Linked DNA regions of Homo sapiens. The protein of the gene in region 1 purifies or fractionates together with the protein of each later gene. This does not show direct contact. Each region holds a gene or a part of one and is shown on either strand. Other genes may lie near its edges. The genes, in order: FNBP4 and MTUS1.

Evidence for each region.
Region 2: the proteins of FNBP4 (region 1) and MTUS1 purify together in Homo sapiens (affinity purification with mass spectrometry; one large-scale study listed by BioGRID and IntAct). This does not show direct contact.

What each region holds. Positions count from the first base shown.
Region 1 is NC_000011.10:47,764,500-47,768,796, forward strand, and holds the start of FNBP4 (formin-binding protein 4), read right to left. Parts: upstream 2,843-4,297; 5' UTR 2,790-2,842; coding exon 2,570-2,789; coding exon of another isoform or gene 2,564-2,569; intron 2,122-2,563; exon of another isoform or gene 2,077-2,121; intron 864-2,076; coding exon 771-863; intron 1-770.
Region 2 is NC_000008.11:17,798,176-17,802,503, reverse strand, and holds the start of MTUS1 (microtubule-associated tumor suppressor 1), read left to right. Parts: upstream 1-1,409; 5' UTR 1,410-1,443; intron 1,444-1,586; exon of another isoform or gene 1,587-1,906; intron 1,907-4,328. UniProt on the Homo sapiens protein: Cooperates with AGTR2 to inhibit ERK2 activation and cell proliferation. May be required for AGTR2 cell surface expression. Together with PTPN6, induces UBE2V2 expression upon angiotensin-II stimulation.

The DNA.
Region 1 (4,297 bases):
TAACCCACACTGGGGTGTTTTGTTTGTTTTTTTTTTTTTAGGTGGCAAATGGTGAGGAGAGAGGAATAAGCATCTATCATTTTAAGCATCAAATAGTACAAAAAGTATTCTGAACTGAAAAGAAATTACTACCAATTATAGAATATTTAATATTAAAACACATTTTACTCTTCCAAGATACACAGAGTAGAGAAAATTAACATTCCTGGCACTTACTATGTCACATCTGGAAATATCTCAGAGATAAAAGATCCATTTTACAGATTAATGAGGTTCAACCCAATTAGTAATTGCGCCAAAGTCTAAGTGTGAATGCCAGAGTGATGAATTGAACCCAGGTTTGTCTACAAAACCACTGTTGCAACTATGGCATTCCTTTGTACTTGAAAATATTTAATAAGATCAATTTCCAGGTCCACCAATGTTTGTTAGGTAACCAATCAAGCCAGAGTGTTAGAAAAGGAATAGGAGTTGGCATGCCTAATGAACACCAAGCTAGTGGGAGGACCAGAAAACTAGTTATAAAATAGCATCAGGAAAAAAAAACAGTAAAAAACGTTTTGGGTAAAGAAAAACAACAAATTTTGCACTGGTCAAAGTGTATATACATCAACATTCTCTCACAAACAAAAATAATCTTAAATCATATTTTTGGGAGAAATAATGTTAGCAACACTAAAGCATTCAGCAAAACATTCTATGTACAAACCCAACTTGACTTTAATGAAAGACGTGGGAGAAAAAATGTAAAAAACAAAACAAAAGCATACCTGTTGCTTTAACAGCTGTGGGTCTAGTGGTCATGACTGGTTTTGGAGGATTCTGAACAACTCTAGGAACCTCCTGCACCGCTTCCTGTTCATCTGGATTAAAAAAAAAGAAAAGAAAAGAAAAGAAAAGAAAAGAAAAGAAAAGAAAACTGCAGTCAGATTCCAGACCAGAGAAAACACTAGAGGTGACAAACCAACCTTTGATTTAACATTTCAGCTCTAGATTCCATCAATTTTTTAAAAAGTGCATTTCGGATGGGTTCGCACCTGTAATCCCAGCACTTTGGGAGGCCAAGACGGGGGGGGGGGGGGGCCACTTGAGGTCAGGGGTTCAAGACCAGCCTGGCCACCATGGTGAAACTCCATCTCTACTAAAAATACAAAAAATAAAAAAATTGCTAGGCATGATGGCACTCGCTTGTAATCCCAACTACTCGGGAGGCTGAGGCAGAAGGATCGCTTGAACCCAGGAGGCAGAGGTTACTGCAGCCTGGGCCACAGAGGAAGACTCCATCTCAAAAAAAAGAAAGGACATTTCATTGACCCAAATAATTGGGAGATAATAAACACAGAGCTGGAATCTTTTTTTTTTTTTTTTTTTGAGACGGAGTTTCGCTCTTGTCGCCCAGGCTGGTCAAACTCCTGACCTCGAGTAATCCGCCTACCTCGGCCTCCCAAAGTGCTGGGATTACAGGCATGAGTCACCGTGCCCTGGAGTCTTTCATCTGCTTACAAACTTCAACATCAAGGGAAGACTCTTACCATGGTAAATAAAAATTATTAATACATCTGCATGGCCGGGCGCGATGGCTCTCGCCTGTAATGATCGCTTGAGCCCTGGAGTTCGAGACCAGCCCGGGAAACATGAACTCCGTCTCTACTGAAAATACAAAAATTAGCCGGGCATGGTGGCAGGGTCCTGTAGTCCCAGCTACCCAGGAGGCTAAGGCGGGAGGATCGCTTGAACCCGGGAGGTGGAGGTTGCAGTGAGCCCAAGATCGCGCCACTGCACTCCAGCCTGGGCGACAGATTGAGACATTGTCTCGAAAAAAACAAAACAAAACTCTTAAAAAGTTACATCTGCAATACTTACAAATACATACAAAAACAGTAAGTATTCTCCAGGCTATGATAGGACCTTTACAAGACACACCAAACACTGCTATTGCGGATTTTTTCCAATTAACGAACCAGCGTGATCTCTGAACATGTGAAACGGTCGCGGCTTCTCCGGCGCCTAGTCCTGGAGTCACTTTTAATCTAAGCACCACTCCAGTGAGAACCACACAAATACTTAGGAACCTACCAGCTCCATTTCTCCAGCAGTTCTGCTAGTGTGGGGATGCTTACTAGCTGGAATATTAAGAGCTTTTTCTAAACGTCTCTATCCCCGTTTCGACAAAACCGAAAGGAGGCAGATGACGTGTGGAAAGGCCTGGCCCACAGTCACAGGCCGCGCACGCGGAAACTCATCCTCACATCCACCCTCTGCGTTACCCAAAACCGACCCGGGGCGTTTGGGAGACTCAGGATGCCCGAACTTCGGTCATATTTCAAACGTTCCCGGGGCAAGCCCTGCACCACAGATGGCGCCTCGGGCTTGGCCCGGGCCGAGGGCGCAGAACTCGGCCTGGCCCTTCTGCGGCCCGGAGCCCAGGGCCGCCCCGCCTGCAGGCCCGCAGCAGGCAGGCCTCGGAAGCCGACCTCGCCCGCCTCCCTCGCCGGGTCTGGCCAGGCGCCGTGAGGAGCCTAGGCCGCAAGCCCTGAGCTCGAGTTCAGGTCCCCCCGCGCACCCTTGCCTTCTGAAGGCGAGTCGTCCGAGGCCGCGGCGGCAGTCACCGCGGTGGTGGTGGTCGTCGCCGCCGACGGGGCGGGCTGGCTGGGGACCGCCGCGGTTGAGTCCGGCTCAGTGTCGGGTTCCGGCTCCGGGTCCCGGCCCGGCGTGCTGCCCCGAGGACCCGGCGGAGAGAGTTGCAGGATGGGCCTACGGCCGGGTACCGCCCGGGACTTCTTCCCCATCGCGAGCCCAAGCGCGAGCAGAGAGCGTCGGGCGGCCGAGAGGGGCGGGCACTGGAGGCTGGGCGCTGGGCCCTGGGCGCTGCGACGCGTAATCAATATTCATACACCGTGACACCGCCTCCAGCCCGGATCCGCTTTCAACCAGCGGAGCACGCGCTTGCGCAAGCGCCTCGGACCCTTCGGCTCTTCTGGCTCCTCCTCACCAGGAGAAAGGGCGGGATTACCAACTGCGCTAGGCGATTGGCTGTTTTGACCCAGAGAAGGGACCGGTGGCCAATGGAAAAGGAAAAAGGGTGAGAGTCCAGCCAATAGTGCGGTAGGGCCTGAATTAGAACGACTTCCCCACTTCCGTCGGGTTCCACCCATGCGCTTTCCCCAAGCCTTTTCTTTGCCTACTTGTCCTCCATCTTGTGGCTATTCTCGGCCTAGAGTTTCATGTTGTCTGTCTTCTAGAAAGGTGTGCTGCTGGGCCCAGCTCACTCACGCCTGTAATCTCAACACTTTGGGAGGCCGAGGCGGGTGGATCACGAGGTCAGGAGTTCAAGACCAGCTTGTCCAAGATGGTGAAACCCCGTCTCTACTAAAAATACAAAAGATTTAGTCGGGCGCGGTGGCAGGCGCCTGTAATCCTAGCTAGTCGGGAGACTGAGGCAGGCGAATCGCATGAACCCGGCGGCAAAGGTTACAGTGAGCCGAGATCGCGCCACTGCACCCCACCCTGGGTGACAGAGTGAGACTGTCTCAAGAAAAAAAAGAAAGGTGTGCTGTTTTCTGAGCCCTTCCCCACGTTTCGCCCGGATTATTGTGGCTTACTTTGGGTATAGCATTGAACATTAAATGGGACAGTGGGTCTTTTACGCTTTTGTAATTTCCTGCAGCACACAAATAGATGTCTCATATTTTCTCGCTTATTAGCTGGGAAAAATCACGAGATACTCCACTACCTACAAGGAAAAAGCCTAAAATTGTTGGGATGGCATACAGGAACCTTACCAGTTTTGTACTACTATCGTCAACATGCTTTAATTTACCCTTGCTTTAACACTGCCCCCTCTCCCGTCTCCTGCCTCTGGAGCCCGCCACTTGGAGCATCACCTCCCTCACTTTTCCTTTGCACTGACTGGAATAATTACTGCATCACATGATGAAAGTCTTTTATTGTTTCATCAGGGCGCAATGCAGACGCAGTGCAGGCGTGACCTCTCCTGCCCAGCCTCTCCCTGGCACTTGACATCCTGTTGACATCCGTCTCCCCTCTAAACTAAGGAATGCGAGTGGTATTTATTTTTATATCCGCAGCAGCTCAGTTCCCACTAAAAATATCTAATACTTACTGAGCTCTATGTGTCAGTCACCAAGCACTTTACACGTAGAATTGCATTTGATCTTTTAAAATGATTATTTCTAATTTTATTTTTAAACGTGTCTTGCTCTGTCATCCAGGTTGGAGTAACGTGGCATGATTATAGCCCACTGCATCCTCAAACTCCTGGGCTAAAGCCATTTTT
Region 2 (4,328 bases), on another chromosome or scaffold:
TGAGCTTCAATTCCTCATTTGAATAATGGAGATAATCTGACCTATATACCCCTGGGTTTTGTAGTCAGGAAATAATGGATCATTGTACATATGAAAAGTCTTTACAACTATCAATGGCAAGACATCTGTCAGTTATTCTAATATTCATGGTATAGAAAACTGTGAAATACAGAGTCCTTACGTCTATTCTCCAAAAAAGTTCACTTCTCTTTAAAAGCTTTTAGCAAACCACAATCCAGGTAATTAAAAAGGAAATATTAAAATTTTGTTCTCAGGTTGTCTGACATTTCACGGTTCAGCAATGTGACATCTCTCACAGGCAGAATAGCATCTTCGGACAAGTTTTCTATTAAAAATATGCTTTATAGAAGAAAATATTTTACGGACCTAGAAGACAGCTGTCGATGAAATTTGCTCAGTTTAGCAAACAGCAAGGACTGTGTTTGTGTTTAGAGAAAAGTAGGTCGAGCCTAGTTTATCTCCCTGGGGTTCTAGACTCCTTTCCACGTTGTATCTCAAGCTCTAATAGCTGGAAAGCTACTTTCTTTAACCTTTAATACACACTTGCTAGTAAACTTGCTAGAAGCATGAAGATAATACAGACTGCGAATCAGCCCTTCTAAGAGACAATCACGACTCCTTCCTTGCAAGCTTCCGCCCTGATAATTCTGCAACCTTCCCACCTTCTATACGCCCCGCGGTGCGAGGCCCCTCGGCCTGCAGGTGGCCAGAGGCAAGCAGGAGTCAGATCCCCCACCTACCGCGGCCCGGCCTGGGCCCTAGCGCTGGGTGCGGCGGAGCCCCGGGCTCCTGCGGGGACGAGCGTGGTCCCGGGACGCGCGGTGCAGCCAGGTGCGCCGGCGGCAGTGGCAGCCGCTGAGCGCCGCGTCGCACGTGGCAACAGGTGCAGCGCTGTCCCGGGCTGGCGCCGGGGGGCGTGGGGCGCGTCCGCACTTAGTCCGGGAGCGCGCGGAGCGTCGGGATTGGGACCCGAGAGCGGGAGCGGAGAGCGGGAGCGCCCGAGCGGAGTCCAGCGCCCCGAGGTACGGCCTCGCACGTCATTCAGGTTCCCCGAGGGCCGTCCCCTGGGACGGCGGCTGGCCTTGGTCTCCCGCAGCGAGCCGCTGGAGTGGAGCCTTCGGAAGGAGCCGCCCCGGGTTGGGGCGGGAGGCCCGAGTTCGGCTATTTACAAGTTTCCCGAACTCCCCGCCCTGCTCCACCCCCTGGCGGCCCCGGAGGCGGGGAGGCGGGGAGGCCGGGGCTCCGGGTCCCGCCTGGTAGCCGCCGCAGGCGTGGGGTGGTGCCGCGCCGCGCGCCCCCAGGTGCAGACGCCGCCCCCGAGACCTCCGGGGCGGGTTCTCGGCGACCCCGCCAGTGGTGCAAAGGGCGCCAGCCCTCCCCGCCTCTGCGTCTTTGCTCCCGGAGCGCTTGAAGGAGCTGCGGGTAAGTGCGCGCTGGAATCTGTTCCCGCTGCCCGGCGGCCGGGGTGGGGAGGGGACAGGCGAGCGCGCCGCCCAGGGTGACGGGACCGGTCCTCGGGGAGGGGAGGGGGCGTTCCAGGGGCCTGGGGGCCGAAGCTGAGGGCTAAAGGGGGCGGCAGCGCCGGCGGAGCGGAGGCGGGTCTCACGTGGGCCAGCGCAGAGCCTGCGGAAGGGACGGATGCGGATCTCGTCGCTGTCACCTTGAAAGTGACCGAGGGGCTTGACTGTGGACTCCTTACGCCGCCCACCCGGGCCCGGCGGTCCCAGCCTTCTCGCAGGGCCCCTTCTCAGCAGAAGCAAGCGGGGCCGAGAAAGCGGGTGGAATAGGGTTGCTGCAGGTCCCAAAGACCCCTCGTGGCGCCTCGCTACTTTCTGCAGCTTGTTTGCACTTTTTCACGCTCTAGAAAAATCTCATCTTAATTAAGGTGACCTTATTGACTACTCTATAGTGCTTAGTGGACTTAGGTGTTCACTGAGGAACGTTTTTGTTCTTTTTTGAAGACGTACTCCTTTCTACCAAGTTGTTTGTTGATTTTTGACTTGGAGTAATTTGGGACTAGGAAGGAAGAGGTTAATTCATTTAGCCTGCGTAGTTACACATACTCTGTTAAATACTGTTTGTTTGAAGTAGTCAGTGTTCTAAGAAAGGAAATCCAGTGTGTTTTGTTTGTTTCAATGAAACCAAAGTCTTAGGCAAAACGGTGCGTGGAAGCTTTCAAGTTTTGCCAGGTGCAGGTGATCGAAAGTCAATCATCACTAAATCACAGCGCTGGGGCTGGAGGGTGGGAGTAGGGGTGTTACCAGTGAATTTCAGGAGGAAGGGAGGCAATGCAGGAGGGAGGGGATTAAAAAAGAGAGTCATTGCTTCCTGGGAACCAGTGACCTCTTTAAGGAGGGTATATACAAGATAACAGTGCATGGACAACTTTAAAAGGAATTGCATAAACGGAATTGCAATTCTGTAGACAGTTTGCTTTTTCAGGGATGGTTAGGGCAGGAAATGATACACAACTTAAAATGGTGATGTCCTGTTAGTACAGTGCTTTACAGTGTAGAAAGTGCTGTTACAGATTTTTTTTTTTTCATAGGCAATATATTCCATTAGGAAAGCTATACAAAGAAAAGATTAGAACTACATGCTTATCCTTAAAACCAAAGCTAAAAAACCTTAGAAGTGGAATTTAGTTTAAAATAATATGTAGTTATTTATGTAACTTGCACCACGTTTTTTCACCTGTTCTTTTTAAAATCAGGTTTATGAAGAGAAAATAATTCTTGGTAAATCTGCTTGGTAGAAAATCATGCTTGGAACAAGACCTTTTAATTATGTCAATAAGTCAAGGTTACATTTTGGAGTATAATAGGATTATAAGATTCTAGATAATATCTTATATTTTTTGGAAACTAACCTGCAGTTATTACACTCAAGCATTTAAAAAGCCTGTTACTTAATAGCCCTGTTCTGTTAACCCTGTTTGTTTTGATTTCAAAAGTAATCCGTGCTTGCTGTATAAAAATAGGTAGATTGAGAAAAGTGAGTTAAGCAATTTCAGCAAAGATAATCACAGTTAATATTTAAGAAAATACTTGTTAATATATAGAAAAATTTTTTATAGTTATATAGTTTATCTAAATATACTATTGCGTGGAGGTTTTTTCCTGATTAATGTATCATGAAAAATTTTCCATGTCATGAAATCTTCAGAAATCTTAGTGGCTACTTAATATTACATTACATAGATGTATCAAACTGGTTTTCATTTATTTCCACTTACTAAATATACTTTTGCAACAAATACGTTTTTAAAACTTTATGTGCAGGGTTAATATCCTTAGTGCCCTTGAAATACAGTTGATGGTTGGAAGATCTCCTCATACATATTGACCATTTGCTTTCCAAAAAATGTTTAACCAAATTATGTTCCCACCAGCTCTCTGTGAGAATACTGGTGTTACCGTATTCTTGTCAACATGTAGAATCATCCTTAAAGGGAAAAAAAAAAAATTCTTCCCAGGTTTATAGGTGAACAGTGCTTTCTCTATATTTAAACTTCAATTTCTTTGATTACAGATGATTTGAACACCAAAGAAATCTAGTTGTTTTCCATTTTGAAATTTGATGTAGTGCCAGATTTTTCTCCTGGGATATTAGTATTTTTCCATTAATTCATAAGAGCCTTTTATGGATTGATAGTAAATCTTTGCCATTCATATTGCAGATACTTTTCCCATTTTATCTTTGCTTTATATATTTACAGTAGTTTTGACATACACAAATTTCTTTAATGTTGATAAATCTGTTGACTTTCTCAAAACAGAATTTTTAACACTTCTAAATCGTAGCTTCAGAACTATATGTGACTGTGGTAGAAGATTTAAAAAAAATTTTCCAGCCGGGTGCGGTGGCTCACGCCTCTAATCCCAGCACTTTGGGAAGCCAAGGCGGGCGGATCAGGAGGTCAGGGGTTCGAGACCAGCCTGGGCAACATGGTGAAACCCCGTCTCTACTAAAGATACAAAAAATTAGTCAATTGTGTTGGCATGGATCTGTAATCTCAGCTACTTGGGACGCTGAGGCAGGAGAAGCGCTTGAACCCGGGAGGTGGAGGTTGCAGTGAGCCGAGATCACTCCAGTGCACTCCAGCCTGGGCAACAGGGCAAAACTCCATCTTAAAAAAAAAAAATTCCCCAAATTCTAAATTAGAATCTTTTCAAATTCATTGCAAGAACTTCCATATCTTGGGTTAGAGACTGTTGCAAAACTAATTGCATTTGTTGATGAGAAGCCACTGGGCCTGGTATATACTATTAGGAACAACATCCTTTGAAATCAGAGCAGAAAGTTTT